Linked DNA regions of Homo sapiens. The protein of the gene in region 1 purifies or fractionates together with the protein of each later gene. This does not show direct contact. Each region holds a gene or a part of one and is shown in the gene's direction. Other genes may lie near its edges.

Region 1 (16,699 bases):
AAAAGATTGCCTCCTGGCTTTCCCATAGCTGAATCCACAAAGCCACCCAGGTTTCTCTTATTTTTTCTTCTCTTATAGAGCAGATAGAGCATCTTTCCTTCATATACTTTATATCTAATGTTTTCTCACTTTCCCTGTAACTTTTCTCTGACAGTTATCCCCTTTCTCCTGCATTAGCACTTGCTCCCATTGATAAGATCATTCTCATTAGTATATATACTTACATACTGCAATGTAAGAAGGCCTGGTCCTTGTCTCATGCAGTTTTGTTTCTACTGCCTAAAATCAGGCTACTCAAAGTTCATTAAGTCCTCAGCATGTGGGCTTGTTGGAAATGCAGACCATGGTCCCCACTCGGATTTAGTGAATTAAGATGCACAGGTGATATGCAGGCTAACAAAAGTTAGAAACATCCCAGCACCCAATAGGTATTCAGTAAATATTTGCAAAATGAATTAATTAGTTCCCAAGTGTTCCTACTCTTAAAACAAATAAGCAACAACAAAAAAGCAAAACAAAAACCCTTTGAAGAACCTAATTGCCTCTACCTCTGTGTCTTTTCCCCACTCCACTTTGACATCAAAGTTCGTTAAAGTGTTGGCTGCAAACTTTTCATCAACATCTCATGCCTGATTCTCTGATGACTCCTTCCTTCACTCTAGCTCCCTCAAGCTCTTCCTTAAGCGGCAGACCCTTTCATCATGTGACTGTACTCTCACATCTATAGGGATGCAATGGTCCCTTCACTATTCTTTCTGCCTCTGGCCCTGCTACAGTCTATTCTCCAAAAGAAGTCCAGCCTATTCTCATAAAATACAGGCCTATAGTTAAACCTATGCAGACATTTTACCATGGAGATGTCTACCTCTGCAGCCCTGTGGAACACAACCATGTCCTTGTCTATCTCGCTTGGACTACTCTGGCTTCCACTCCATTCCTTACCTGAGTCAACCTCAATCCCAGACCCCACATGGCTGCCCTGCCTTCTATCTAAGACTCTATCAGTACCCAATACTTGTACCTAGTTTTTCTTCTGAGTTATCAGCTTTAGATATTTGTCTGTTAATCTAACAATTATGTTACTTCTTCAGAGTGGCCTAGTCTCTAGACTGCATGTGTGAGTAAGGTCTTGCCCATGCCACCCCTACATGACCATCTGATATGGTGTGGATGTGTGTTCTCTCCAAACCTCATCTAGAAATGTGAGCCCCAAGATTGGAGTGGGGCTTGGTTGGGGGTGTTTAGGTCATGGGGGTGGATTCCTCATGAATGATATGGTGCCCTCCTGGCTGTAATGAGTGAGGAATGATTTCTGGCTCTGTTAGTTCACAAGAGAGCTGGTTGTTTAAGAGCCTGGCATCTCCTCTCTGTCTTTCTTGCTCCCTCTCTTGCCATGTGATACCAACTCCCCTTTCCCTTCTGCTATGATTGGAAGCTTCCTGAGGCCCTCACCAGAAGCAGATGGTGGCGCCATGCCTCCTCTACAGCCTGCAGAGCCGTGAGCCACGTAAACCTCTTTTCTTTATAAATTACCAGCCTTATGGTAATGGAAATGGACGAAGACACCATCCTAATTCAGCTTGTACTCATGTATCAGTGTTCTGTGACTTTGTGTATTGCATATTGCTACCTCAAATCTGCGAGCTTCATGAAGGTAGAGGTGGGGCGTCTCTCCTAAATGTTCTATTTATAAGGCCTGACACAGTGTCTGGTCCTTAGCAGGTGCTTACTAAATATTTGTTAAACAAATGGACAGATGTATACTTTTTATTGTATCCATGAATGTGATAGGGTGCCTTTGTAATACTCTTGTGTTCTATCATTTGTCTGAGATCATAAGGACCTTCAAAGCAGGTATTGCCTTTTCAGATGTTTTTTGTTGTTATTTTTATTTCAACCTTGCCTACCTCTTCTTGGGAAACTAGTAATGTGATCTCCTCAACATACCCTGTGGATTTATAGAGTGACTTGGAGCCTGGGAAGAAACCAGCTCAATCATTCATTATTTTGTTCAGAGAGCTTTCTCTGGCCTTTCTGCTCACCCTTACTTTTTATAATTGTGTTTCGCTACCCTACGCTTTACTTCTTTTACCAAGATAGGAATTCTCCTCCTCTCTCCTCCCACAGCCAAGCAGTTTAACCCCACTTCTGTAGTTGTAAGCAATTTCTGCCTCTTTGTGGAGCCATCTTTCCATATAAATCACTCCTTTCATTTTCCTTCCCGGCATCAGATACTCTGTTCTGAGCTGCCGTCAGCACAGTTGCCTCACTTGCGTGGTGTGAGAAATTGCTTTCTGCATTCAGGTAGAGCCCTCACTGTGCTTGTGGGGACCAGAGATTCCCCTTGTTTGCGTCAGGACACAATGAGCAATTTCTGGTGGACTCATCTATCATCAGACATGGCTGAAAGTGCAGCACATTATCATCCAGTGGCTGATTTTCTGCCTCAGGTGATGCTGTTTTCAGGAAAGCCTGCAACCTCCCTTGGTTGTGTTTCCACTACTCTATGTCCTCATGTTGCAGGCCCTCACGTTGAAGGCATTAGTGTGTTTTCTCTGCATAACCTCCCCTCCCGCTCCACACACACATACACATGCACACACACGTGGGCATGCACCCTTCCTATGTATTAATGTGACATCTCCCCTCCAGCTGGTGTTAGTGTGGCACTGTCTTCCAATTTTCCAGCGAGTGGCAGATGTCATGTTATGTCAGATTTCAAAGTCAACCCGTTGCACTACTGAAATATTTTTGTGCTGTACTCTCCTTAAGTAGCTCTTATCCCTCACCATTTTTCTGCAGAGGCTTTCAGATACATTCTCAACCAATACCTTATCAGCAAATATTAGCTCTAGCAGAGTGATTACTCTCGTTGCATTTCCAACTATCTGAATCATAAAGTTTTCCCTTACATAATTTAGGGTCCCTGTTGATGCTCTGAAGTTGGCTCTATTTGTAACTCAGGAAATAAATGAGTAGTTAAAGCCTCCTGGGAGAACAGCTTTTGCAATTTAGAATACCTTGGGAGTTGATCTAAAAATATTTCATTTTGGCTTGCCTGTTCTTCTTTCCCTTAAAAAATTATTTATCACTGGTTTATGAGTTTATTAAAGCAAGGTCTTCCTCCCAGTTTTTGGACTGGCATTATTAATATATTTGGATACATAGTCAGGTTTTTCTTAGCAAAAATTCAATTAACTCTCAATTTATGAAAAAGGCAAATGATAAAAGGAAAACCAAAAAGTTACAAGATAATATGGGGGAATGTATTAAAAAAGTAAATTCAGAGAAATGCATTTCGGGCTTTAAAATTCCACCCAGCATTTCTTAAATTGAGTACTCTATAGAAGACCACTTTAAAAGCAGGGGTCAAGGATGGGAAGAGAGACAAGATTTTCATGGATTTCCAGTGGTAACTATTAAAAAAAAACTTTATATATGTGCAATCATAAAACTAGGTATAAATGCCTTAAGCTTACACTCTGATATGACTGTAACTTCTGAAATTATAAGTTATGCACATATATAGCCACTAAAATTTAAACTTGGAACATTAACTTAATGGAACAGATGATGTTTTATTAAAATTAAATCCACTTTGGGAGGCCGAGGCGGGCGGATCATGAGGTCAGGAGATCGAGACCATCCTGGCTAACGCAGTGAAACCCCCTCTCTACTAAAAATACAAAAAATTAGCCGGGCGTGGTGGCGGGCGCCTGTAATCCCAGCTACTCCAGAAGCTGAGGCGGGAGAATGGCGTGAACCCGGGAGGCGGAGCTTGCAGTGAGCCGAGATCGCGTCACTGCACTCAAGCCTGGGCGACAGAGTGAGACTCCGTCTCAAAACAAAAAACAAAAACAAAAACAAACAAAAAAAACAACATTAAATCCCAGGTTGCAATGTGGATGTGGCACTGACTGCTGTAAGGCCTGCCCTTCTGGGTTCCACGCTCATCCTGTGATAACGAAGTTCTCCTTCCACAGTGGCTCATTCTAGCGCTTGGGAACCTTCATTACTACAGTGGAGCCCATATCATTCAGCTTTTGCTGGTAGGAAGGCGTCACTGACAAAGCCAGTCACCTCTGTATTTTTGTCATCAGCCTGATATGATGCAAGGACTTCTCAATGTGCCAGTGTGGTGAACACAGGTGCAAATCTGAACATTTAAATTTAATTGTTGTCATACCACATCTAGCATAGGTTTATATTATACATCTCCCAATTACAATAGAAATGAAAACACTAAATTGAAAAATATACATAAAGAGCCCATGGACTCTATGTGTGTCTATGTAGATACAGATAAAGATATAGATTCAGTTATCCTGCAGAAAGACACATATATGTCCCCACATATAAGTCTCCTTATGTGGGTTCTTTTGATGCCCATTTGAAAAACATTGTCTTACACCTTTTATCACTATAAATATGTATTGATGACCTACTAGCTCCTGGGTAGAGGCTGGGAGGTGCTGGTGATACTGAATATGGTTACTATCCATGTGACATTCGTAGTTTAACACATGAGAGTATAAATAATTAAATTCAGTGATGTAAGCTCTATGAAGAGTCTAGGATCTTTGGTATTATCCGTATATTACAAAGAGAATGGAGTCTGAATTAGAGATTTAACTACATTTGCCATTGTCTACTAATTAAAACACAAAGGTATGCACCCTGTTTTAGGTATTATTACCGTAACAAAGGAGGAAACATAAAGGCATTTTCTAGTTAACTCTCAGTTTATCAAAATATCAATTATCAATTCTTTGAACACGTACAAAGTCCTCAATATATGAGGACACCATTTGTGAGGCTGGTTTAAAAGACTTGTTCTCCAACTACCCAGATCACTTAAATGTCCCTGCAGCTATCTGTGCCTGTATGTGAGATGAGAATTTCATTGTAAAGTTAGACACAATTTTCGGACATGCATCTTATTGCACCCAACTTTAGAGTTATAAACATTCAACCATTCAACGTCTGGCATGAGGCCATGGAAGGGCATTTCTTGGGAATTCTGTTCCAAATATATCCACAGTTCCCATGATACACTCTCCATTCCTTACCTTCTTTTATTTTATCCAGGTATCCTTCTGAAACAAATATATCTAGACATACATACTTTATTTGTCTCTCACTAGGTGTAGTTTCATAGGGCAGGAACTTTGTCGGCCTGTTCCTACTGTGTTCTCAGCTCCTAGGAAGTTATCTCATGCACCTTAGGCACTCACTCCATATCTGTTGAATGAATCTTGGCACTTTTTTTTTTTTTTTTTGCATTTTCAAAGACAAAATATAAAAACAAAAGTAAAGAACACAAAAAAGTTAAAGCCAATTGATTTTAATTTTCAGTGATTATTTTGATTAAAATTCCAACCTGTCACTTGCCTCATTTCTTTAAGGCAGTGAGTGGTTCTCCAGGAGGAGTCCCCAGAGCCGCAGTATCCGGGAACTTGTTGAAAATGCACATTCTTGGTCCCTCCAGACCCATGAACCAAAAGCTCTTTGGGGGCTGGCTTCAGCAATCTGTTTTTGATGCACAGAAAAGGTTGAAAACCACTGCTTTAAGGCATGGATTTCCCTAAGTTCACCTCTTCCTCTGAAAACAAAACAAAACGACCCTGAATCTTAACCCCACGGTACATATTCAGAAACATCTCTGCCTTCTGATGTCTGTCAGGCATTTCTTTGCTCTTCCAGACTCTCATTTATACCTTCTTTCCTCACACATGGCTAGAGGTTAAGAATGTGTACAAGTGTCTTCCAGATAGCTTTCCTTTTTTCTTATCTGTGCCTTGGGTTCCTCATCTGTAAAATGTGGATATAATATTAATAGAACACATCTCAAAGGGTAGTTATTAGGATAGAATGATTTGATATATTGAAAGTTCTTACAACTATGCCTGGTGCAGTACAAGCAATATATAATTTTAGAGGTTACTTGTGATGTAGTTGTAATGAGTTCTGTTTTATCAAGGATCAGTAGGTAGGGTTAGCTTGGAATGTAAGAATTTTAAATATCTGAAATAATTTCCAAGACATCAGAAAGTTGTCATTAGCCTTCCTCAACTTGCCTCTTGGCTCCCCCTTATTTAACTTCAAAAGTGTTCCCCTCTGTGCTTCTTGTTAATGAGAGTCCAGGACACGGCCACAGACAGCAGGGAAGGAGCCTGAGTTTAGAAGAGCACTCAAGCCAACTTTTTAAGTCCTTCCCTGAGTTCTCTTTCCTGCTGTTCAGGGGACTATGGAAGAGTCCTATGGTGATGGAAGAAAGCATGAAGCCATGAAACTACATTTTCTTTTGAAGCAGAGCAACATCATGAGGAAAATAACTTTCCTCAACTGATTTCATTGTTTCCCTCAGTTTCTCTGTTGTTAGGTTCTGAGAACCATACAAACTTGTGAACCATCTTTGCCCATTTAGAGAGATGGCTTTTACTCAGTTACTCTTTTCTGTTTCTACTCCAGGCCCATAAGGAGGCCCAGGTCCAAGAGCAAGTACACCGGATCATGGCTACTCACCAGGGAGAGGATTACCCAAGGGACACACAGGCTTTCCAAGGGCTGTGTGGCTAGGGCAATGACAGTGTGTTCTGGCCCACAGAGTAGTTTTGGATTGCCCTTTTTCAAAGTCCACCCTTACTCAAGCCTGTGGCCACTTGCACTGGTTCTATGCACCCTCAACCTGAAGTGGTTGGTCCTATACAAGGACAACGATAGGATTCAGGAAATGCACTTCAAAGATCTCAAATTCCCTAAAGTTGATCTGCTTGAGTAAGTGCCTGAGGTTGCAGTGTAATTCTGTGTCTCCCTTCTGACAGCTCCCACTTCACACTTCGTCCAGGAGATAAACTTCTTTGGCTTTCTTTGTCACCTCCATCAGCCGACTGTCATGGAGCAGGGTATCAGTCTTGAAGGAGACTCCCACAGAAGCAAAGCAGGGCACTAAAGGCAATGGCACCTGATTGCATCAGGAACAGATTCATGGCAAACTAGTGCATTCTCCATTTAGAATTAGAACTTGGAGATGAGACATGTCCTAACAGAGGGCTCGGTGATTTAGCATATTAAAATAAACAGTATTTGTATTTTCCCAACATTTCTGAGTGTATTGGGTTAAACAAGGCACTTCCAGTAAAAGAATAACATCTTTTTGCAGCCATCTGATAAGGCCTGGTAAAATGGTATCATATACTTTCCAGATACTGAGAAATTGAATGAATTTGATGCCATGTTATAAACCCCTTTGCGAGTCAGGTATTTTCCAATTCATTGCATTAAAATAAATTGAAAGAGGAATTAATTGATTTGTCAGCTGCGAGATCATTGAAATTATCTTTGAAGCTATATTACTATGTGATTTTTGGCATATATCTTGGAAAGCATTCAAATAATTGAGTTGGCATTGCTATGCACAATTTTCATTTCCATCTTCTTATGTGAACAAGGTTTCTCTAAAAGCAAAAGTAGGAATAGAATTGATCCTGAACTCCATCTCATTCTAGCAGTGAGTGATATTTATCTACGGCATTTAAAAAAAGGGGCCTATCCCTCTTATTAAAAGCTATATTTCTAGTAAGTTTGCTTTTTCATGTTTAATTATTGCTTAACGAAATGTGCTCTATATTTATGTTCTATCAATTTTATATTTGTAATGATCATTCATTTAAGAAATATATTATTGCTTAAAGTTTTATGGTCATAGGACATAAAAGAAATTTAAATTTCAATCTCTGTATATTTTTGGTTGCAAATAAATATGGTAGGTGATCAATAAAAGACCTTCAAGCATAAAGTACATTTTTCTGCAGAAGATATATAGTGGAAAAACAAGTTCCAGTTTAAAAAGGAACAATGCACGTGTTATGACTTTTAGAAAAAGAGTTAGTTCCTGAATTTTGAAAGCAGATAATCAGGAGTGTTAATCACTGTGATATTTAAATTCTACTGAACAAATACACACACACACACACACACACACACAGGAATTTTGTGACTTAAAAAAATTTTTAAATGTGAATATGTTCTAAAGGCCAAAAAAATCATCCTTTTCAATTGTAGCTTACAATTTTTTATGGCAACTTAAGAATGTGCAAGGGGTTACATAACTAAGCAAAATTAAAGCAATATTTGTTTGCACTTAGTCACTTGGGTTGTGTGGTGACTAGAAGACCACACAACTAGAAGCGACTGGAACATCACGCCCTTCACTCTGTCTCAATTTAGCATCTAATTCCAGGTGTGCTGATTTTTGGAATTCTACTATTTGAACTTTCTTTAGGAGGAGCTCTTCAAACAGGGATTTCTCCTTTATGAAAATTCACCTATCCTTAGGAAAGGTTGCATATTTCCCCTTATCAGTCATTTGCAACTGAGAATGAATAAATTTATCATATTTTTTCCCCAAGAAAAGCCTTTGAAAGTGGGGAGCAGGGAGGATCCATTAACGTTTAAGATCCATTAGGTCTTCATAAGGGAAATAGAAAAATGCTATGGAAGTAAGAAAGCAACAGGAAAAGAAGCAAGATGCCTCACGATGTGGAGGAGATAACATGACTTCATTTTTTCTTTATACCAATGACATTTCTATAATGATGTGAAAGAATCATTCGATGGTACCTAGATTATCAGGTCCTACTGGTGAATGCAGTTGGGCCCTGGAAACTCGCTTACCTAGAAAGTATGCAGATTGAGGTCTGTAACTGCTGGTGTGCAAGGGATGCCTGTGGTCAAATAAAAAAAAATAGTTTCATTGGAATGTTAGAGTATGATTCTATTTCAGGTGAAAGCAAATCAGCACAAGCTTCATACAAGTTCATGCATGTGTATAAGGAGTAAGATGTAGACTGAGATATAACAAGTTGCTAGCAAATCACCATGGGGTGCTGGGCATTGGTGAGGAGTGAATGGTTAGATGGGTCTGTATCATCTTAGTGTTATTTACATGCATTATTCACTTTGTATTGTTCACATGCTTATTTAGAAAAGAACAATGTCTTCCTGCAATATTGTGAGAGTGCCTAACACCCTCCCTACCCAACTTCTCAGCGGCTAAAGGGCAGATGGGCCAGCTCATAAAAAGGCCTGGGTGACCGGAAGCTGGTATTGCTTTTATTCTTCCTACCAACCAGGGAGAGGACCGCCCTAGATCAGGTGCTTTCCCCATTCTAGAGGGTCATGGTTCTGGTGCTTGGAGACCCTGAGCCATGCAGGCCAGGTGAGACTGGTCACTTGGCCAGGTCCTGACATCTCCACTGTGGCCAGTGTCTCTGGGGTCCTTCCATCTCCTGAGACCTGCCTGAAGGATCACTGCTGCCACCCAAGTGTTAGGTCAGATCCAGTGAGGGAAGGCCATGCCTATTCCCCGTGTTCTCCTCACCTGCAGGTGCTGGACTCAAGTCCCTCCTCTCTCTGCCAGGACATTGGCAAGAGTGGTTGTCCTTGTGCATTCCTATGTGCAGCATGGAGTGATGGGTGTGCCTCCACACTTAGAAAGCATTCTGTTTCCTCATGCTTCCATTCCCACGTCCTCAGTTCCTGGGCACATGCGCAGACGTCCAACACTTTCAGTCCTATATCAGACCTGACAGCCTGCAGGTCATCCACACTGACACACAGGCCTTGTTTGTGTTCATAGCTTTGAATTGTTAAGGAGAGTAGGTGAGAGGTGTTGCACAGTTCCCTGCTTTGATAATAGCCTTGTTCTGTCTCCCAATGGGACAGGGAGTGTATGAGGAACAGGGATTCTGCTGATAATTTTCTTTTTCCTCTCCTGAAGTCCTAAGATGCAGTTTTGACTTCCTCAAGAAGTGTTGGCTTTCTAAGGTGAATTTTACCAACCTATGTTATAAATTGTAGTTTGCAGGCTTTCGGCTGCTTAGGGGTATAAGGAGATTACCAACACCAGGGAGGTCTGGAGGTAAATATGTTCAATTTTTGATTAACTACAAGTTAAGTATTTGCTTTGTGGGTTATCTGTGACCTATTTGAAATGCTGATCCACTCTCTCTCCCATGTGCCCCTGGGCCACTTCTTCCCCAAGGTGGTAAATGTGCTCAAGAAACATAAACTGATTTTCATATAAGCCTATGGGGAAAAAAATAACAGGGAAAGCAAATGGATGGCAAAGATACATAATATGTCTCGAAGTCAAATAGAAATGATTTTGTATTGTCAGTTCTTCAAGATGATTCTGGTCACTCTTAGTTTATATTTAGGAAGTTTCATCAATAATTGTTTCCTTTTAGCACTGTGTTTTGTTGTTTCATTTACTCCTCAAAATGCAACGTCTTATTTACCATATTATATAATCTCTCCACTCTCTCTCTTTCCCTTCTTCCTCCCTCCACCACTCCCTGCCTCACTGCAGGTGTACCATAGATGACCGGGTAACCCGGGTGGCCTGGCTAAACCGCAGCACCATCCTCTACGCTGGGAATGACAAGTGGTCCATAGACCCTCGTGTGATCATCCTGGTCAATACACCAACCCAGTACAGCATCATGATCCAAAATGTGGATGTGTATGACGAAGGTCCGTACACCTGCTCTGTGCAGACAGACAATCATCCCAAAACGTCCCGGGTTCACCTAATAGTGCAAGGTAAGTCCCAGCTGGATCTGGGGTTGCCATTCCCGTCAGTGATGGAGGGGAAGAACAGTGTTGGTGTTTGTTCTACCTGTGTGCGAAGACACAAAAGTCATCTTCCTCTACTGAATTCAGAGTTTGACTATATGTCTTGGAATGTTTCCCATCGAATGGGTACTTAACTAAGTGCTGAATATCTTCTCAAAGTTTCTAAATGTTATCTCTAGTCCTTCTGTTCTCATCAATACGTTGTGTAACATGCACTCGTATTGAGCTCTCGTAAGTTACTTAGCACTCTGGAGCTGGAGTGAGATACATGCAAACATAGATAAATACAGTACTACTCTCAGTGCCTTTTAATTCTCTTATAGGCTTATTTCATGATAAAAGACGAATAATGCCAATGAGAAACTACGTGACATGACTGTTTTCGCACAGTTGCTGGTCATGCATGCTCTGGAGGGGTCTCTGAGTGCTGTTTAGGCAGGTCCTCCCTGGCATTGCTGCTGTCTTTAAACACTCTCTCATAGCCAGACAATGAAGTCCAGATCCAAGAGGGATATTAGTCAGAATGATATCTGCAGGTTAATGTTAGTAATAAATTCAGACAATTTTAAAAAGGGAGAAGGAGGAAGGAAGACTTAGCATCTTCTTCCATTCTCCTTTAAAAACTTGAATCGACATAGCCCAGGAATTGTGTCACGTGCATTTTAAAATAGTTTTTAATTTAAATTTCATATTACACCTCAAAAATGGGGCTGAAGAAATGTCAGATTCTCAGATATTAAATATTAAGAATTAAAAACACATGCAGATAGCAGTTCCAAGAATTTGAGAACCATTTTAAAGCAAGGCAGCAATCCAAATGAACTTATTTTGAACTTGACCCCAACTATCATCACCATGTAAAGCCATTTCTGTCAGGTGTTGGCTCACGGCAGGAATGAAGTTGTAAGCACATTAGTTCCGTCAGCCAGTGATGCATCCTTCCTCCACCAAATGAAAGGTTCGGGTGGACTTCTTTCAGAGCCTCGTTTGCAGATATCTTGAGGAAACACAGTGAGCTCTCAGAAAGGGTCCCTATGTGTGATTTAGTCTTTAGCATCTGCCTTTTATCAGATCCCATCTGTCATAGATCCAACAGAATTTTTTTTTTTTTTTTAGTTTGTGAAATGTGTATGGCATCCTTGCTTAGCTAAGATAGATTCCTCATCTCTGATTTAAAAAAAAAAAAAAAAAGGACCACGATGTTGCTCATTTCAATTGGTTTCCTAGAGAGAGGTTGCGTGGGGGCTGTCTATTCATGCTTCAGTCACTTGCATGATTCAGGTTGCCCATTCTTTCCTTTTGGCGCAAGCAGCCAGGCCTGCCTCTGTAGCCATTTGTAATGGCATGTGTGGGGCCAGAGAGCTGTCTGCTGTCACTGCTGTTCCCCAGCAGTCCTTGGCACTGCCATGCTGCCTGAAGCTTTGCTCCTGCCCAGCCTCCAAGCCCTGCTCCCCTCCTCGCGTGCTTTCAGGCGTTCACACACGCCATCCGACAGACATCTACAGATGCTGCGGGTTTCCACTCTCCATACACGTCCACCCACAGCTCTGGAGTGACAAGACTGCCTGCCATCTGGAGATCAAGACAACTGTCACATCTGATACTTCTCCTCAGAGGACGACAGAGGCACTTGGTGAGATCAGTCATCGGAGATGAGCTGGGCTATCTGTTGAACGTTTCTGAGGGTGTAGAAAACAAAAGACTGTGAGCTCTCACTACCCCACCTGCCTGCACCTGGGCTTGGTTCCAGAGGAGCTGACATTCTCGGCATCGGAAGTGCCACCTCAGTGGCACCTCTGTGGCCTTGACAGCAAAGTTATTTTCAAATTCAGGAAATGTGGCACCGAAATAAAAAAGAACTGTCAGGCACTGTAGAGAAACAGACTCAAACAGAGCAAGCCTATCCCTTTTCAAGAACGAAGATAGATGATATAAGCAAATCAAAGTCAATGCACAACATAATGGGCTGGGGGCTGAGCAACAGAGAAGGATGTTCTCCATAACACATGCTGAGCGATCCCTTGGGTGGGATGTGGCAGCCTGTGGGGTCTCCCTGTGGACCTCCAAGCTTCAGGTCAGAAAAAGTCTAAGGACAGCATGGCATCTATTTCAGAGGTCAGCTCCTCAGTCTCCGCATTCCAGGCCAAGCTACTCTCTGGCTCCAGCCCTCTGAGGTGGCCTGGGAAGTCCAGAGGCAGTCAGGATGGGTGGGGGTGGGAGGGGAGGATATTCTTTTGGGGAGGAGCTTCTCTTGGGGAAGAGCTTCTCTTGGGGATGATGTTCTCTTGGGGAGGAGCTTATCTTGGGGAGGAGCGTCTCTTGGGGAAGAGCTTCTCTTGGGGAAGATCTTCTTTTGGGGATGACATTCCTTTGGGGAGGACATTCTCTTGGGGAAGATCTTCTCTTGGAGATGATGTTCTCTTGGGGAGGAGCTTCTCTTGGGGAGGAGCTTCTCTTGAGGAGGAGCTTCTCTTGGGGATGATGTTCTTTTGGGGAGGACCTTCTCTTGGGGAGGAGCTTCTCTTGGGGAGGAGCTTCTCTTGGGGAAGAGCTTCTCTTGGGGAGGAGCTTCCCTTGGGGAAGTGCTTCTCTTGGGGAAGATCTTCTTTTGGGGATGACATTCCTTTGGGGAGGACATTCTCTTGGGGAGGATCTTCTCTTGGGGAGGAGTTTCTCTTGATGATGACGTTCTCTTGGGGAGAAGCTTCTCTTTGGGAAGATCTTCTCTTCGGGAGGACATTCTCTTGGGATCCTTGGCAGGCTGGTTTGTACCTTTACTGAGAGGCCACAGAGAAGGAGATCAGAAAGCTGAATTATTTCCTCTTGCTTAGTGATCCAGTGACTTGCTCTTTCTTTGGAAGACAGTTGAATTACCAGAGGGTGGATGTAGAGACCCCACTACTCAGTTAGAAAGAAGCCCCAGAGTTCTTCTCCCAGCAGCATCAGCTTTTGTCCAGTCTATAGATTAATTTTTCAGACATAGTGTTAGTTCAGGTTAGATAAAGATAATGAAAGTTTCCTAATCCTCTTAAAGAAAATTTATCTGACTGAGTAGAAAGCTTTTGGAAGACAATAAGGCATGTATAAAACTGAGGCCTAATCTTGCCTTTAATTTCAAACTGCTGATGGGTATTGATTTTGCAATGAGAGAAAACAGAAAAATTTCCGAGCTGCCACTTGTCTGTTTATAAAAACAAAAGGTGTTTATGTATCTTCTGTCCATTTGAGAAGGTGGGTATCTCATTTCTTCTGCCAACCAGATGCCATCAGCAGAAGGGAGTGCACGCCTAAGGGACTCAGCTTTATCCCTCCTGCCATGGGAGCGCCTGAGAGACACTCTGCCACCAACTTTCCTGCCTGCCCTTTCCTGTTGTAGAAGGCAGCCTTTGCCACATATCTGATGGAACTAATTTCCAAATCCTTCTCATTGAGAACAGAAGCTGCCTTCATTAAAATCGTGTCACTGATACCTGAGGTACATCTCAGCCACTGAGGGGATCAGCACAGGCACCGTGTGAGCATGTGATAATGTGATCTAGGCTGCACACCTCAGTGTGGAGGAAATCCGGAGCAAGGGGGATGCTCAGCTGTGGGGTCGGATTAGTTGGGGGGAAAATCAGCCTGGCAGCCCCGCAGAGCAGGAGCTAAAGCGGGAGAAGCTGGAGGCACAAGCGCAGGCAGGAGTGACTCCCATCCCCGCTAAGCAGTGCAGCCAGGGTGACCGTGGGCCTACCTGAAAAGATCCAGAGGTGCCTGAGAGGCACTGTCCACAGGAAACTGAGAGCATTCATCCTCATACCTGGAAAGAGGAAGAATTAAAATGATATCACCCAGATTTTTTAGTTTGGAGAAATGCTAGTGATTGGGGAGATACGATCCTATGCCACTCGGAAAGAACAGCTTTGGGCTTACGAGGTCTAGAGATAAACAACACACAAACATTACACAGATGTTGCAGAACTAGGGAACAGGTGTAACCTAACACCAGAAAGGGCATATTTGAGATTCAGCATGAATTTCCTGGCTGGAGAGTAGGTAAATGTTCTGAGGTTAACTATTCGTAGATAACAGTAAGAATCATAATTTATTTATATCCAACCTCAGCACTTAGCACACCGTCTGAGGCACAGTAGGCACTCAGCAAATGTTTGTACAATGAGCAGAAGCAGATTGATGTTGCTACTGGAGTGGCATAGGAACACAGCGATCATAAAGCATCTTCCTGCAGATACAGGTGGCAGGGAAGTCAGACTATGTCCAGATGACTCGGAGAGGACAGTCATGGAGGAAAGGTCCCTGAGGGGAGAGGGTCCTCGATGTGACAAGCTAAGAGATTGTTCTAAAAGGATAACACAAATTCCAGGCATTTATTTAGTACTTTACAGAGATGGCACAGTGTTTGTCACCTTTGACTCACACAACAAGCCCTGGGAGGCTGTAGTGCAGTGACCGTTATCTCCATTTACAAATTAGGTAACTGCAGCTCATGGAGGTTAAGAGCCTGGCTGAGTCCCCAGTGAGTAAGTAGCAGAGCTGGGTCTTGAACCATGGCCACAGGACTTTCAGAGTAGTGTCTTTTCAGCATTCTGCAGTCCCTCCAATGCCAACAACATCCAAAGTTAGTTCTCTGCTCTAGATCAATGGAACATTTTCAGGATTTCTCTCTCTGTGTGTGTGTGTGTGTGTGTGTGTGTGTGTGTGTGTTTGTCATTCTTCCTTCTATTGATATTGCATTGTAGCAACAGAAATTGAGGACAAAGCTCAAGAAAGAAAATTAGTGGTGGGAGTGGGACACCAAAGCTACAATAAATGATGTAGAGAGGCTGTGAGGGGGGCAAAGAGAGGATAATTAATTTTCTAGTAGCTCATCCCTTCAGGGATATGCATTTTAAATGTTACCACTTTATCCTATGTAAGTACTGAAAACCCTGGACCCTCTGTGGATCCAGAATCTCATTGTCATTCTAACTGTCATGAGCTCTTCAGCACTCTGAAAGAATGCAGAGATCTATGTGTGCCAGTGGTATGTCATTGTCGTTGTTTGTTGGAGATAGATGGAGTAAGAAGATCCGTCTATGGTTGCTTTTTGGATGTAGGTATTCTCTACCTGCTTTCCTGCCTTGTTCAGAAATCTCTTCACTACAGGTTACTTCCTTTTATGGAATGAACTCCTCTTGCTAAGCCCAATTTTATGCAAAGGGCTGGAAATGATGAATTTTATTAAATTCTTACATAGGAGGCTCCACAGCAAGCTTATGCAATTTCTATGTAAACAAAAGACTCTACATCTCTTAGCCTGGTGTCAGTTCAGGTGAAATTGGTTGGTATCTGAAGTTGAGTTTTGCTTGTAAAGAAAAATGTGTTCCCAGCCCTGCCAGTCCTAGATATTGCTGATCACCAACCAACCTCAGCATTGGGTGCACTAAGTATAAACGTTATCTCAGCCGTTCCTTACATCTATCCACTCTACAGAATATCCACCCTAGTCATGTTTACAAATAAGGAAATGGAGGCTTAGAAAGATTAACAACTTACCCAACGCTGATGCAGCTGCCGCGTGCTTTAAATCCCCTTCACTAGACTTACTCATCGAGGTTAAGCTTTTCTCACGAGAAAAAAAGTTATCAAAATACAAACAGTTAACAAGGTACTTTATATGCATTATCTCTTTTGATTATGCTTCCCAAAAGCCCCACATGACAGAATAGAAAGGCACACCTTTCCAAGACCAGAAAGTGAGATTCAGAGACTTGGAAGTGATTTGTCCGAGTTACACTAGCGAGGAAGTGGCAAAGCAACACCCAAGACCGGGTATATTTACTCTGTAGCCACCAGAGTGTTCAACACACCACTGACTCAGAGTTAAATACGTAGACAGGTACTTGTTCTTATGTGAGAAAAATGTCAACCTTCAGAGGTGCTCCAGAAAAGGGTGGGCCCTGAGGTGACAATTCTGGGGTTGGGGCAGCAGGTGGATGCTGGGATTGCACCAAGGAGCGGTTGCAGCAGGCCCAGGGAGGCAGAGCCATAGGTCACAATTTTGCCAGGGATTTCCCTATTT
Region 2 (16,699 bases), on another chromosome or scaffold:
TAAGAACACTGAAGGGATGGTGGGAAAGATTTCTTAAAAAAGAGTAGTTAGGGCCGGGCGCGGTGGCTCACGCCTGTAATGCCAGGAGATAGAGACCATCCTGGCTAACACGGTGAAACCCCATCTCAACTAAAAATACAAAAAATTAGCCGGGCGTGGTGGCGGGCGCCTGTAATCCCAGCTACTGGGGAGGCTGAGGTAGGAGAATGGTGTGAACCCAGGAGGCGGAGCTTGCAGTGAGCTGAGATTGAGCCACTGCACTCCAGCCTGGGCGACAGTGCGAGACGCTGCCTCAAAGAAAAAAAAAAAAAGAGTAGTTAGAGGAAGGCATGCGCCTAAGTTAGACTTGAGAGCAAAGTCTGAAGAACACCAACAACAGAATTATTCTTTAGGAAGCCGAATGCCAGGGAGCACTCCTAAGGATAATTTACTAAAATAAAAAGGTAACAAGATACTCAGCCTGGTGAGGCTTACAAATGAGAGAAATGAAGCATACTTGTAAAATACCAGACCTTCAGGGGAAAGAAAATGCAAAAAAAGACAAATTTTTAAAGGCTGTAAAAATTAAAACATTCTAACTTACTTGAGGTAGATAAAAATAGAAAATCATGTAAGATTAGAACAGATTATATTTTTGACCACTCATGTTAGGAGGTGAAGAAATGTTAGGATCATAAATCTTAAAGCCAGCCAGGCTCGGTGGCTCAAGTCTATAATCCTAGCAATTTGGGAGGCCGAGGCAGCTGGATCACCTGAGGTCAGGAGTTGGAGACCACTCTGGCCAAAATGGCGAAACCCCGTCTCTATTAAAAATACAAAAATTAGCTGGGTGTGGTGGCGCACGCCTGTAATCCCAGTTACTCGGGGGGCTGAGGCAGGAGAATCGCTTGAACCCAGGAGATGCGGAGGTTGCAGTGAGCTGAGATCGCGCCACTGCACTCCAGCCTGGGCAACAGAGGGAGACTCCCTCTCGATAAATAAACAAACAAATCTTAAAACAAATGGAAAAATCAATAATCCGTTTAAAAAATGTACAAGGCCGGGCGCGGTGGCTCACGCCTGTAATCCCAGCACTTTGGGAGGCCGAGGCAGGCGGATCACGAGATCAAGAGATCGAGACCATCCTGGCCAACATGGTGAAACGAGGTCGCAGTGAGCCGAGATCGCGCCACTGCACTCCAGCCTGGCGACAGAGCGAGACTCCGTCTCAAAAAAAAAAAAAAAAAAAAAAAACAACACCAAAAAAAAAGTACAGAAAAGGATACCTTTCAGTATTTCATACATCACTAAATGTGCAAAACCCCCTAAGAACAGTTTAATTAAAAATTTGAGTCTGACCCTGGGCCCACTGCCTATGAATTAGCCCTGCTCCGCAAGGAGCAGTACTGTTTTAAAAAAAATTTTTTTTGGACAGGCTGATTTTACATTTGTAATATTTCTAAATCTTAAATTAAAAAATATATATTAACATTTATATTTTAAAAGATGCTTTCAAAAATATAAAAAAATTAACTCATTACCTATTTTGTTTAAGGGCTCCTGGAAAAACTGAGGGAATGATCAATATGCACACCAAAACAAATATATACAAACTTCTAAATTTCATTTTATAGGAATAGTATCTATTGAAAGGGCAGGGTGCATGAATAACTCAGTGACAGGCGTAAACTCAGCCAGGATTAGAAACGTCTTCCCAATGGAGGCCCCGCTCAAGTTGAGAATTTCATGGACACAGTAAATCATCCAAAAGCCCACCTTCAATAACCAAAGTAGGCATAAAAATAGGCCGATGGTTACTTTGGAGATAATATAATCCTCGGTCTTATTGTTGTGGAGCAGATGTCATTATGGGTGGGGCTGAAGCGCAGAGCAGCTGAAACATTTTTATACCACCACCCGCACACTTTCAATGGGATAGAAGGGACTCCAAAAGGTAAGAGCTCCCAATCGTCAGTTGCTACTAGAAATAACTAAGTTTTGATGTGGCCGTGGCACGCGTAAAGGCCACAAAGAGATTTATAAAATTCTCCATGATTAATTCCTATCCTGGAAAAGAGGCAATCTCCTTTTCCCCTCCCTAGCCGGCTCCTCCTTGGGACACTTGGCTGAGTCGTTCTTTCCCTCCTTCTCACGCTGAGGTGAGGCCGCACGCAAGCCGGAGACGCCCGTTTTCCTCTTCGCGCGGAGGAAACTCTACGGGTAAGAAGCCGGGGTGGCGGGAAAGGAGCACGCGGCACCGCGGGGAGGCAGAGAAGGCTTGCCAGGGACTAGCCGGGCTCGGGGAGAGCAGGGACACGCGGGCCGTCGGACCGAGGAGGCCGAGGTGACGAGGAAAATCTCCCGGCGCGGAGCCGGGACTGGGCGCTTCCGGCGGGCTACGGTTGCTCTTGGCCTAGCACAGCCTGCGTCCCGGGCCCCAACCGGGCCAGGTAGGGAGTTAGGAGAGAGGGTAAACCGCGGCTCGCACTTGCCTGAGACCGGGTGACCAGTAACTGGTAATAGTCTTTGCTAGGCGGCGGGCCTTGTCCTACAGTTTCAAAGAGAGTCTCCGGCAGCCACGACGCCATCTTGGGACGCCACCGCCGTCGCTAAGACAACCAGGAAGGGGCGGGGCTTGGTTGGGGTCAAGGGGCCAAAACCCTAGTTTAAATTGAACCACGCTTATGAGCTGGCAGAAGGATTTCTAACTTGGGGCGATCGTCCCCTCTTCCAAGGGTCTTAGGGAACCCTGATCCGTGAAATTTCCAGCTCCAGGTCCCGGGTGACCCGAGGGGGAATTAGTTCCTGCTACCACGGAGGGGAGGGGGTGACCCCGGCGGAGGGATACCAAGTAGATCTCCACAGTCCCCTTCCTGGTCCCTCGAAGGGATCGGGCGGAGATCGGAGGCTGCTGAGAGAGTCGAGCCGGGAGGCGTGGGAGGGAGGGGCGATGTGATGGGCCGCCAGTAGGCAGCGGTGCCGGTCCCGCGGACGAGCCCGTAACCGGAGCCCGAGGACAAAGTAGTTCCCCGAGGGTGTCAGAGCAGGCGGGGAGGGAGGCGGCACGGGCGGAGGCGCACGCCGGGCGCGGTGCTGCGGCTCAGCTGATAATTGAAGGAACCCGGAGCCGCCGCCGCCGCGCCGCTGGGGGGGGTGGGGGGAGCTAGTGGAAGTTACTGCCGCGCCACCGAGTCCGGACCGGAGACTTTGGGGCCTAACTAGGTAATTGGGGCGCAGCTCTGGGCGGCGGGGGCAAGCCTTGGGGGAGGGGGCCAGCTGAGGGGTTGGGGGGGCGGGGGGAGGAGCTGGAACAGAAAGTCCCAGGAAGCCCGGTTGTGTCATCGCCGCGATTCGGCCCCCGCTTGGCCTGCTCCCGGCGCCGGCGGCGGCGGGGCCGCGGAAGGACCGGGCCGGGGGTGGACGGGAGAGACGCTCGAGGGCGGCCGCGGCCGGAGGGACCGGGGCCTGGCGGGAGGTAGGGGTCGCTGGGTCCCTCCTCCGGCTTCCCGCAATGAGGAGGGCCCTTCACAGAACCGGGGTAAGGCTTGCGGGTGTTGGGGAGCTCGGCGGGGACCAAGGGGGGCCGGAAGTGGGCTTTGGAGCTTGGAGGGTGTCTGGGAAGAGAGAAAGTGGGGGGCCGGAAGTGCAGGTGGGGGGTGTGAAGACGGCAAGGGTTCCCCGGAAATGGGACGAGGGGCCCGGAAATCGGGAAAGGGGAGGCTCCGGGGCCGTGGACGGCCCGGAAATGGAAACTAGGAAGCAGCTCCAGTGACAACAGTTGTGGGAAGCGAGGGTCAGAGAAGGGAGAGGCCAGAGAGACTTTAGACCGCAGTAAGGGGTTTCCTGCCCAGGGGGACGGCGAGGGACGGTTGAGGGAGGGCGAGCCCGGAGACGGGGTCTGCGCGGGGCAGTTTTTTAAGCCGTGGGAAGTTGAGGCTGAGGGAGGATGATGACGAGGGGGGCATGCAGGGAGGCCTAAAGAAGCCGAGAAACTTGACTGAGAGGAATAGAGTATCCTTTTAAATAGATCAGAATGGAAATTGGTGGTAGGTGGGTTTAACTAGGACTTGGGGGAGGGAGGTGGGCCAATTGTCACCCCAATCGTATTAGCATTCAGAGCGAGTCAGGCGATTAATTTATTTATATGTGGATTACATAAAACCTATTATTTACAACGTTTGTCCATCAGTTCAGCCCCTCTCCTTCCTTCTCCATAGTGAGTGGGTTTCTAGTACAGGAACAAGTTAGAGGGGAGTTCGAATAACGAAGGTAGTAAAACCTCAAATCCTGTCTTCCTCGGCGTCTCTCCCTTCCTCAGAATAAGAAATCCTTCATTTCCTAGACGGAAAAATGCGGAAAAACATAAAAACACATGTAAATCGGGGGGAAATCACACTTTGAACTCCTGGTGGGGGACAGGAGGGAATTGGTTACCTTACGTGGTGAGGAGATAACGGAAGGGGCAGCTTCCAAACCCTTAAGACAAATGTTGTGTTTTTTTGATAATGCTGTTTTACTTTGGGGGAGGTTTAGCCTAAGCATCGAGTCTGGTGGTGGGCATAGTTTAATTGCTTCTTTAGTTAATTGGGGGAGGGAATGTGTTTGTGTGTAAAGGTTGGGCCGGTGCGGGGGGAGGCGGGTACGGTTAATAGCGCAGTGAATCCGTTCTAAGTGGACGTCTAACTGCTCTCCTGCTGTCTCCTTTCCTAGTCGCGGTCCTCGATCTTGCCTGGGCTGCCAGATCACCCGATCTCCGGGCTTTACTCCGTTTTGTAGGCCCTTTAGTGATGTGTTTAACTTTATGTTCCTCTCGAGAGTCTCATTAGGTATTTTTGGCATTTCATTTTTTAAAGACCTAGCAAGTTGAGTCTCAGAGTCTCCTCTTTAAAAACAAAACAAAAAATACGGGGTAGAAAGTTGAAAGAGCTATTGAGTGGGGTAAAACGACGCTCAGAACAAAGGTCCTAGTTGTGTTAGAAAAAAAGGCAAGAGGCCTGTATATGAGGCCTGTGTGTGTCGCATTTACACCCCGGGGGGGTTGAGGAATGGAATTAGCAGAGGTTTAGAGACAATAAATTGTAGAGGATTTTATTGAGGCTGATTTTCATATTTACCACATGCAAAGTGATCAATATTAAGTGTAAGTTTTAAAGTATACAGAATTTCTAATTCTTTCTTTTGACACTTCCTGCTGTGTGTTCAGCCCCAGAAATGTTGAACTGCTGTGACTATCTTTGTGAGATTGAGGGAGTTTTATTTTAAGCTTAAGAGTACATAATATGATTGGGGTTTGTGGGCTTTGTACATGTCTGCCTTTCTATGAATGTGCCAATATCCATAAGAATTGGAAAACTGTAATTAAGATTATCATTGTTTCCATTCAATCCCCAGTTTTTCTGGAGTGTGAGCAGTTTTTAAGTCTGTTCAGCTGACATTTATACTACTTAGTTTGAGTCTATGAACAGGCTTTATTTTTCTTTTTTTTTTTCATTTACTTTCAAAAAGTTTGAGAACAATTTTGGCAGTTAGGTTCCAGAAGGTGCTAAACTAAAGTAGTTACATTTAAAAAACGAATGGGATGCTAGGTAGATCACGGTAAAATCAGTACTTTCACCTGGCAAAGTAAATTTGTAGTAATGTATGATTCCATGTATGATTCCTTTCCCATTGTAACTTTTTTTTTTTTTAAAGCAGAATCTTGCTCTGTCGCCTAGGCTGGAGTGCAGTGGTGCAGTGTAGGCTTAATGCAACCTCTGCCTCCTGGTTCAAGCGATTCTCCTGCCTCAGCCTCCTGAGTAGCTGAGATTACAGGCACGCGCCACCACGCCCGGCTAATTTTTGCATTTTTAGTAGAGACAGAGTTTCACCATGTTGGCCAGGCTGGTCTCGAACTCCCGACCTCTCAGGTGATCCGCCTGCCTTGGTCACCCAAAGTGCTGGGATTGCAGGGGAGAGCCACCACGCCGGCCCCAGTGTAACTTGTAAGATTATTGTATTTATGTTATCTAGACAAGGTTTTAATATCCTGCTTTATTTTAAGGTTTTCATCTTAGCAAGGAAAACATCACTGGCTTGGAAATTCACACACTACCAGTTAGTAGCTTTGTGACCTTGAGCTAGTCACTTAACCTATCTGGTCTTCATTTATTTTATCTGTAAAATGGGAGTGGGTAATCTCTATTTTACCTCACTGGGTGGTTGTGAGACCCAACAGATGTAATGACTGAAAAAAAACAACATGCTAAATAAATTAATTTTAGAAAATTACATGAGCTGTTTTGAGGTCATTTTTAAAAGATACAGCTTCTCATTAGTCGTGGTGGTCCATGGGGCAGGGGAGAATTAATGTAAACTAGGTTGAAGGTACAGAGTTATAGAACTTCATAATTTGAAATTGCTGCTTAATTGGTAGTAGAATTTGGGTCTCATTTTTGTCTTTTTAAAGTTACCTTCTTTTTTTGGTATCAGCATGCCAGATACTTGTTTGCCATACATTCTACTGAAAAAACTTGTTAATATGTTTAAAGAAACTTCAAATTCATTTACGTTTTTTATTGACAAAGTACCTGTTCTGGTTTGTGACTCTAATGAAATTGACTTAATGTAAGAGATTACAATTAGGGAATAATGCTTCTGAATCTTGGTCACTGTTTTCTTTACAGAACCTAGGGAACTTTCCCCCCTTTTAAGTGGATGGGTAGGGATCTTTTTGAGCAAATGTGATACCAGTTGCTCCTTTATTTTTTTGTTTGCTATTTGATGGACTCAAGTCAAAACAGCAACCTACTTGGTTTTTTAATCTTCACTGAAATCATTCCTTGCAATTGCCTGTTTGACATGGACTTTTCCCTCATTTAAATCAAGCAAGCACCCACTATGTACAGAAAAACATAGAAGATAAAGGATGTGAAGAACAACTTACAACTCATGTCTTCAGATCACTTCCTCGAACAAGTTTCTACCTGTGATCTTTGTATTTCTGATTAACTGTACTTGCTTCGTTTCTGCATTACAGTATTGCATTTGTTGACATGTGTTGCTTTTGTTTCCCTGATTGGACTGTAGGCTTCCTGAGGGCAAGGATGATTTCATGTCAATGTGGTATGTGTGAAGGTATACTAATAAACCTGATTGGTCTGGGTGAGGTGGCACTGGAGGTGAGGACGTGGGAGGATCGCTTGAGGCTAGGAGTTGTAGCCCAGGCAACATAGTGAGACTGTCTCCACAAAAAAGAAAAAAAAAGTTAGCTGGGCATGGTGGCATGCATCAGTAGTTCTAGGCAACTTTGGAGGCTGAAGCGGAAGTATTGCTTGAACCCAGAGATTTGAAGTTAATAGTTATGATCATGCCACTGGACTCCAACCTGCTTGGAAGGGTTCTTTGACCCCAGCAGATTCTTCAGAATGCTTTCTCTTGGTTGGTTCAGTGATCAGGGCCTCTTCACATCTCCCCTGACTAACGTGCCATTAGAGTGCCTGGATGGATATCAACTGTCACTGCCATGTTTTAGTGTTAAGCCAGTGGATTATTCTGTGCCACTTTTTTCATAGGCCAAGCTTTAGTTAATAAGGCCAAGCCTGAGGAGAGTCCAGGCCAGATAGGGTGGAAGAGTAAAAATCTGGTGGATGTTACAGAATAAATATAATTTTTAGATTGTTGTATATAATCTTAGTGCTTGGTAATTTTTTTTTTTTTTTTTTTTTTTTTTTTTTTTTTTTTTTGAGACAGAGTCTCGCTCTGTTGCCCAGGGTGGAGTGCAATGGCGCGATCTTGGCTCACTGCAGGCTCCGCCTCCAGGGTTCATGCCATTCTCTTGCCTCAGCCTCCCGAGTAGCTGGGACTACAGGTGCCAGCCACCACGCCCAGCTAATTTTTTTGTATTTTTAGTAGAGATGGGGTTTCACCTTGTTAGCCAGGATGGTCTTGATTTCCTGACCTCGTGATCCACCCGCCTTGGACTCCCAAAGTGCTGGGATTACAGGCGTGAGCCACCGCGCCCGGCCAGTGCTTGGTAATTCTTAACGTGTAGTGTAATGTAAGCTTTACTTGTGTATTTTCTTTTGGTACTTGTGTATCATTTCAGCAGCTGTGTTACAGACTTGAAGACATAACCTCAAAGCAGTTGTTCTCTACCTCTCTGCTGGGTTTCTCTGTGCATAATGGATGCTTGCTGTTATTTGTAATAAATAGATAAGTATACCGATGCTAGACCTGTCCCTTGATTTTTCTTTTTTTTTTTTTAAGTAAAATTTAACTCTGCTAATGTCTTGGGTTTTTTAAAAATGTAGTTCTTTAATATCCTAACTTACTGATAGTTTTAGGTTATTGGCAAAAAGAGGTTTCCTAGACTGAAATAAGTCTGTTCAGTCATTTTTCTCTGAGGCCTTTTAGATTTTGGTTGTTTATTGTGATTTCAGTGATTTCATTAAACTGAATTGGATAGAAGAAAAAGGAACTTACCCATTATTCAGGCTTACCTGCTTTGTCTTGAGAGTGCAGAAGCTATTGGCAGTAGTCAGTTTCATGGTTATGCTTGTTCGTTTGTTGAGACAGAGTCTCACTTTTGTCACCCAGGCTGGAGTGCAGTGGCGCGATCTCGGCTCACTGCAACCTCCACCTTCCAGGTTCAAGTGATTCTCCTGCCTCAGCCTCCCAAATACTGGGATCACAGACGGGCACCTCCACACTTGGCTATCATGGTTATGCTTGATTTAAAAAGTCATTCAAATGGTCTAGAGTGAAAAATACCTGCTACTGTGTGTTTTCCTTAATAGCACTGTTCAAGTGATTATCTGATTTGAAGGCAAGACTTAGGTTCCAATCCTGGCTATGCATTTCCCATCTTTGTAACCTTGGGCAAATAATTTAACTTAGTACTTTGTGAGCTTCAAGTGCCTAATCTGAAAAATTTGATTATTACCACCTAATGTAGAGTCAGTTGTCATTTATATGCTAGACATTCTGTATTTAGATTAGGCTCCACAGATGAATTGGAACACAAGGCCCTTTCTCCACTTGTTTACAGTACTGTGGACCATTGCCTCATTTGTTAAAACTCTTTTAACTCGAACATACCTCTGTTATATGCATAGGTATCCTACTTGAAACATTTGACCCAGTGGCTCATGCCTGTAATTCCAGAACTTTGGGAGGCTGAGGCAGGAGGATCACTTGAGCCCAGGAGTTTGAGACTAGCCTGAGCAACTTAGTAGAGACCTTGTTGCTACTAAAAGTAAAAAATTAGCTGGGCATGGTGGCACATGCCTGTAGTCTTCAGCTACCTGGGAGGCTGAGGTGAGAGGATTGCTTGAGCCTGGGAGATGGAAGCTGTGCTGAGCTGTAATTGTGCCACTGCACTCCAGCCTGGGTGACCGTGAGACCCTGTCTCAAAAAATTTTTTTTTTTTTTTAGTATACAATAGTATTCCTTAGTTGATTATGAATTCTTTAAAGTCTTTAGCCCTCACCCTTTTTTTAACTTTTATAAGGACACTAATCCCAAGTAGTGTCCCTTTTTATCTCTGCATCTAGCACAGTAGCTGGCCCATGATAGGGATTAAGCGTTTGTTGACAGAATAAGTCTTGTGAAAATAAAATAAGATACTGTAAGTGGAAATATTTTGTAATGGCTTAATGTCCTATTTTTAAAATTTTGATTCTTATTTTGCATCGTTAATGCTAAAATGACTTTGAGACTTTTAGTCAGTATATATTTTGGAGACTGCAAGTTACTTTAAATCATACATTTTAAAAAGAATTAGGGCAAGCCATTTTGTTACTCTTTAATTGACCATTATGTGCATGTAATAGTTGATAAAGTACATTGAGGACCTAAATAAGTTTTTTTTTTGAGATTGAGTTTCGCTGTGTTGTCCAGATTGGAGTGCAGTGGCGCAATCTTGGCTCACTTGTAACCTCTGCCTCCCGGGTTCAAGCAATCCTCCTGCCTCAGCCTCCCGAGTAGCCGGGATACAGGTGCCTGCCACCACACCCAGCTAATTTTTTGTATTTTTAGTAGAGACAGGTTTCACTCTGTTGGCCAGGCTGGTCTTGAACTCCTGACCTCACGTGATACACCCGCCTTGGTCTCCCAAAGTGCTGGTATTACAAGAATGAACCACTGTGCCTGGCCAATATGTTTTAATGCAGTGCTAAATGATTAGTGTTTCCAATTTATAATAGTATACATCATTGTAGTTTATTCTGTTTGTTTCTTTTTAGAGAGCATGTACATATTTCTATAAATATGGTGTTATTACCCATACATGGATTTTTGAAGGCTATTTATAAGCCTAAGTGTCCATCAACAAGCCTTCAAGACTTGAAGTTACAGCATTTCAGTGTGTATTTTAATCAACTTGTTGGCTGTCATAACCAATGAGTTCTACCCTGACTTCAAAACTCCTACTCACTCTAGCCGTGGGCAGTGCTCTGAATAAATAGATGTACCTTGTGCTGTGTTCTTAAGGTCAGATGAACTTAATTTAAAGATTTTATACTGGTAAACATGTGCGATGCCCTGGAAACCTAAAGTGAGTTTTCACAGTAGCCCATCTCTTGAAATTCTCTCTTCAGTTGTAATTTAAGCTACTTTGTGTCCTTAGAGAGCAGGTTCATAGAGATCATATGAATGTCCCCTACTTTTTTTGATTCTCAAAAACCAAGTGCTTCTAGTAGCCTTGTAAATAGGAAATATATGCAAATGCTGTCAACTTCTCAGACCCCAGTGTTTCGTAATTCTGTTTTACATCCTTGGCTGCAATCAGATTGAACTGTTTCTTCCTCTCTGAACACACCCAGCAACTTTTTAGCATTTTTGCTTTGGTTTTTTGTCTACTTGAATTGACACCCCCTCTCACATCTTGTATCTATTATTTTTATTATTATTTTTATTTTTTGAGGCAGAGTTTTGCTTTGCCGCCCAGGCTGGAGTGCAGTGGTGCGATCCCGACTCACTGCAGCCTCCACCTCCACCTCCTTGGTTCAAGCGATTCCCTGCCTCAGCCTCCTGAGTAGCTGGGATTGTAGACTGGTCTCCAACTCCTGACCTCAGGCAATCCACCCACCTCGGCTTCCCAAAGTGCTGGGATTACAAGTGTGAGCCACCGCGCCTGGCCTGTATCTCTTAGAAATATATATACTTACACTTAACTTTCTTCCAGTGACTCCTTTAAAATTTTTACTCCTTACTCTCCTATTCTCCTTCTGTAACATATTTCAGGATGACTTTCACGTTCTGTCTTACATAATTAGTTGTTTACATTTTAACTTAACTGGGTTTTTGGCCTCTTCAAGGTAGAGATCTCATTCTTTTATCTTCACAGTGTCTAGCACAAGGCTTCCAACATAATGCATTGTACATGGTAGGTGTACGTGGTAGTGTGTTCTGGTGTGACACATTGAGAAACGATGTTGTGAAATAATATTAGCATCGTTTGCCATAATTTACTTGCTTGTTTTCATTTTTCAGGGGTTGGCAGCTGAGTGTAGAATATAAATTTTTCAAAATTAGGCTCATTAAAATCAGCTACTTAAGGAATTGTTAAGACCCTAGAATATTTTAGTTAGTTGGTTACCCCAAATTTAGCATTTGGAGATGATGTTTATTAGTAGATGATGATTTATTTATCAATACATATTTATCAAGTGCTTACTGTGTGCCACAATTGTGCTTGACAGAATATAAAAGGGACCTGAAACTTATTCCTTGTCTTCCAAGTTCTGTTATGTTTCATATAGTTGATATTTATCTTATTCCATCACAGCTTATTTGTCTAAAACTGTATATAGGAGTATAGTATTTAGCATAGAGAAATATTCTGTAAAATTCTAAATGTAGATTTTCTGCATTTAGAAAATCTGATATTAGAATGTAAATTAAGAAACATGAATTAGGGCATGATTTGTGGCTATACTAAATAAATTGTTGAAGCATCTTCATTTACAAATATTCAGCCAGGTGCTGTGGCTCATGCCTGTAATTCCAACCCCTAGGGAGGCTGAGGCAGGAGGATGATTTGAGCCCAGGAGTTCAGGACCAACCTAGGCAACACAGCAAGACATCATCTCTACTAAAAATAAAAAATTAGCCTGATGTGGTGGTGCATGCCTGTAGCCCCAGCTACTTGGGAGGATTGCTTGAACCCAGGAAGTTGAGGCTGCAGTGCGTCATGCCACTGCACTCCAGTCTAGGCCACAGAGTGAGACTCTGTCTCAAAAAACAAAAACAAATACTCATCAGCAGCTAATGTGAGTGCATATCTGGTTCCATACAAGATCTGCCCTCTTAGAGGGTGCTGAAAAAGAAGAGATTTATAAAAGGAGATTCCTTATCTTGAAATGTACTTTGTTGTAGATGAGTTGAAACTTACGACTACAGCACACAACATCTAACATTGTGCATATTTGTTATTAAGTACAAGATCGAGTTTTATACAGTGGGTACTTGGAAGTTTAGAGAGGTTCAGTTCTGGGTTGAAGTTACTTAGGAAGACTATGAAGAGAGAGGGGCTTAAACTGGCCCTGATTGTTTGGAGGAAGATATAGAAGAATGGGGAGCTTAAAGGTGTAATTGTGGTGAGGATCTAATATTAAGGTAAATGGGCTCTCTGGAGTAGAGGGTCCATATATATGAAATAACAGGAAATTGGGCTGAGATTATTGAAGTTCTTAAATGGGAGATCACGGAATTAGATTTAACAGATTATGTTGAATGATTGTTGATCCCTGAATAGGTGATGTGAAAAAGGTGTACAAAAATATTTATGAATGAACTGAAAACAAAAATAAAAGTGCTTTTAGATGTCATTTTTTATGACAGTGCTTCCCTTTCTGATACTACATATAAAAGTTTTTGTATTAAGTTTTGGAGGAGATAGAAGTAGTGAAGGTAAAACTTCTTGTTTTTTCCTGTTGTTTAAAATGTTAAATAAGCAGAAGCTGGTTTATTGTCTAAATGACCCACACCAGTCCTCTGTTGGACACAGAAGTCTTCCTTTAGTGGAAGCTATCAGTCATTTTGTCTCAGCACATTCAACTGTTGTTTGTTCAGATTTTTTGTAATTCAAAATACTTTTTGATACCTAATGCATGATTTTTTGTGAGTTGTCCTCAGTAATTTGTAAGTCTTATATAGGGAAACTTTTGCTTAGCGTTCAATACAGTGAAATTATGTTTAAAACAAAAGTGAATTGTGGCTTAAATATTTAAATACTTCTGGTTTTTTTTTTCTAGCCATTACTGACTCTGGGATAAATATGTAAATACTTTTAAAAAGTACAAATTAATATTACATAGTTTAATCAAATTAAATATTCTAATAAAATATTCGCTTTGCACTCTGCATAGTAGAGTTGTTACCCCTTTAATTGTTTTTAAAATTTTATTTTGACACATAATATGTATGTATTTATGGGGCACTTAGTAATGTGTCAATACATACAATGTATAGTAGTCAGACCAGGGTAATTAGCATACCATCATCACAGACACTTATTATTTCTTTGTGTTGGGACATTCAATATCTTCCCTCTAGCTATTTGAAACTGTATATTAAACTATAGTCACCCTGCAGTGGAATAGAACAGGAGAACATACTCTTCCTATCTAGCACAGTTTTATATCCTTTAACAGATACCATTACTTTTATACAAGTATGTATACAGGATTTTAAAAATGAGAAGTTAGGTTGTATGGTGGCTGAAGAGAAACTAAAAACAATTTTTTTCAGTGTTCTGATAGCTATGATATTTAGCTTTCTTTAGCAGCTTTTATTTCTGGTGTGTTCTTACAGACTTTCCTAATTGCAGTTTGGATTAATTTGATTCTTATGTAGAAAGCAGAGATGCTAGCTATGCAGATTTATGACTCAGAATTGTACCTGTTTGTAGAGTAAGGAAGGCTGTATTGTCCAACATTTTGTGGACTTTAGAATAAAAATATTCGTGAAGTCTATCTGTTTTACTGCTGTAGCACAAGAGTGCCTGTTTTTCTGTAAAACAGCCACCCAGCTTCATATATTTTTTCCTTTATATGAAGCATGTATTTTCATTTCTTCCCACCTAGGGAAAGCAGCTTAGTCTCAAGGGAATTTGACCCTGCTCTCTACCCTTCCACCCCAGGTCCAAATGCATTTGTGCCCTTCCCCCAGTAGATGGCAACAAGTAGGCTGATGTTTAAGAAGATTCAGTAGTCTTAACTTTGTGATCAGACCTATTTACTAATTATTTCTCAACTGTCATTAGTAATGTTAGTGTTGATTTTCACATTCTGGCCTCAAAATCCTTTCAGAAAACTAGACTGTTAATTGCAGAGTTCATCTTTTTTACTCTACTCTTCATCCTGCCTTTTGAAAAGTGTTGCCTTTCCAGTTGCTGCTATGAACTAAGACTTGGGGTATTTCAGCCTTTGGTGTGGTGCTGTAAGATAATCTCCTTCTGCCTCTTCTAACCATCTAGTATTACTTTTCAGCTGCCTGTATATTAGGCCATGACATTTTTTCCAGGTATCTTGTCATTACAGAAAGTAAGGACTACTGAAAGGAATTACTGAAGAGCTAATACACCATCATTTTATATCTTCATTGTGGTACATGTTTTAATTGATACTCAGTTTATTTCTTGAATCATTTAAGGAATTGGTAAACTTATGTTTGCTGGAATACCAGAGTTTCTTTCTCTTCTATAAAATGGGTCTACTACCTAACTCATGTGTTTACTGATATTCAGCCATAGTGTTACGGTTTTGTTTCTTATTACTAAAAAAGAAAATGAAGGTGATTCATAATTACAGAGTTAACTTCTGAGAGTTTACTGTATCTCAAGAAACTTAGAACTTTTTCATGATTCCTGCTGAGTTTATTTAAATTTTTAATGCAATAGTAAAGGATTTGGGAAGTTTTCCATATTTCTTCAGACAGTTGTAAAGTTAGGAATGGCTTAATCTATCTATAGTTATTTTAAGGAGTGTAAAATCAAGGACTTAGTAAAACAACAGTTCTAAAAAAATTCTGGAATTGTTTCTATTTTAAGGGCTAGTATTAGAATCATGGCTCAAGGAAAGGAGTTATCTTGGTTTCAGCAACTGCTGCATTTAGCTCTTAAAGGTGTTGCTTGAATTGCATGTAGCAATACTCTCAAACCTAGAAAAGCAATCATTTAAGGCATGTCAGTGCAGTTACTCTAGCAGTGGATATGGAATTAATACATGTGAATTATAAGCAAATGGTATATATATATTTTTTGTTTTTAGAGTTGGGTGTCTCACTCTGTCTCCCAGGCTGGAGCATAGTGGTACAATCATGTCTCACCATAGCCTTGAAAGCCCTTGGATCTTGTGATCCTCCTGCCTTCACCTCCTGAGTAGCTGAGACTACAGGCTCACACCACCATACCTGGCTACTTTGTTTTTTTTTTTTGGTAAAGACAGAATCTTGGTTGCCCAGGCTGGTCCTGAACTCCTGGCCTCATGCAGTCCTCCTGCCTCAGCCTTCTAAAATGCTGGAATTATAGGCATGAGCCACTGTACCAGGCTTTTTTTTTTTTTTTAGACAAGGTCTCAACGCTGTCACCTAGGCTGGAGTCCAGTGGCACAGTCACTGCTCACTGCAGCCTTAACCTCCTGGGCTCAAGCGATCTTCTCACCCTAACCTCTTGACTAGCTGGGACTACAGGTGTTCACAACCACATCCAGCTAATATTTTAATTTTTTTTTTTTGTGTGTGTGGAGCCAGGGTGTCCCTATGTTGCCCAGGCTGGTCTCAAACTCGTAGGCTCAAGTGATCCTTCCACTGTGGCCTCCCAAAATGCTGAGATTACAGGCATGAGTCACCACTCCTGGCCCTTATCAGGGTATAATAAGTATTTTTGAACACTTCTTATTTCAGGCCCTAGGCCAAGATTTAGGATTATAAAGATATATAAAATGTAGTCCTTGGCCTGGAGTTTACAGTCTTAAAGGGAGAGTGGTAAACTTGGACAAAACTAACATAAAATCTCTTTTTTTTTTTTTTTTTTGAGACAGAGTCTCACTCTGTCACCCAGGCTGGAGTGCAGTGGCGTGATCTCAGCTCAGTGCAACCTCTGCCTCCCAGGTTCAGGTGATTCTCCTGCCTCAGCCTCCTCAGTAGCTGGGACCACAGGTATGTGCCACTGTGACTGGCTAATTTTTTTTATTTTTTGTAGAGGGGTCTCGCTATATTGCCCAGGTTGGTCTTGAACTCCTGGCCTCAAGTGATCTGCCCGCCTCGGCCTCCCAGAATGCTGGGATTACAGGCATGAGCCATCATGTCTGGCCGCATAGCCTCCCAAAGTGCTGGGATTATAGGCGCGTAAGCCACCATGTCCAGCAGCATAAAATCTTTTTTTTTTTTTGAGACGGAGTCTCCCTCTGTCACCCAGGCTGGAGTGTAGTGGCGCAATCTCGGCTCACTGGAAGCTCTGCCTCCCGGGTTCATGCCATTCTCCTGCCTCAGCCTCTCCGAGTAGCTGGGACTACAGGCGCCCGCCACCACGCCCGGCTAATTTTTTGTATTTTTAATAGAGACGGGGTTTCACCATGGTCTTGATCTCCTGATCTTGTGATCCGCCTGCCTCGGCCTCCCAAAGTGCTGGGATTACAAGTGTGAGCCACCGCGCCCGGCCTAAAATCTCTTAAACTGAATTGTGAGACGTTACGCGGATGCTTCATAAGATGACCAACTGTTTGGAATAAAGAATATGGTA

The links.
Region 2: the proteins of OPCML (region 1) and TRIP12 purify together in Homo sapiens (affinity purification with mass spectrometry; 2 studies listed by BioGRID and IntAct, with this or other methods). This does not show direct contact.

What each region holds. Positions count from the first base shown.
Region 1 is NC_000011.10:132,650,993-132,667,691, reverse strand, and holds part of OPCML (opioid-binding protein/cell adhesion molecule isoform b precursor), read left to right. Parts: intron 1-10,372; coding exon 10,373-10,605; intron 10,606-16,699. UniProt on the Homo sapiens protein: Binds opioids in the presence of acidic lipids; probably involved in cell contact.
Region 2 is NC_000002.12:229,908,382-229,925,080, reverse strand, and holds the start of TRIP12 (E3 ubiquitin-protein ligase TRIP12), read left to right. Parts: upstream 1-3,071; 5' UTR 3,072-3,201; intron 3,202-3,291; exon of another isoform or gene 3,292-3,810; intron 3,811-15,994; exon of another isoform or gene 15,995-16,116; intron 16,117-16,699. Other genes in the region: FBXO36 (F-box only protein 36), read right to left, coding at 2,472-2,567. UniProt on the Homo sapiens protein: E3 ubiquitin-protein ligase involved in ubiquitin fusion degradation (UFD) pathway and regulation of DNA repair.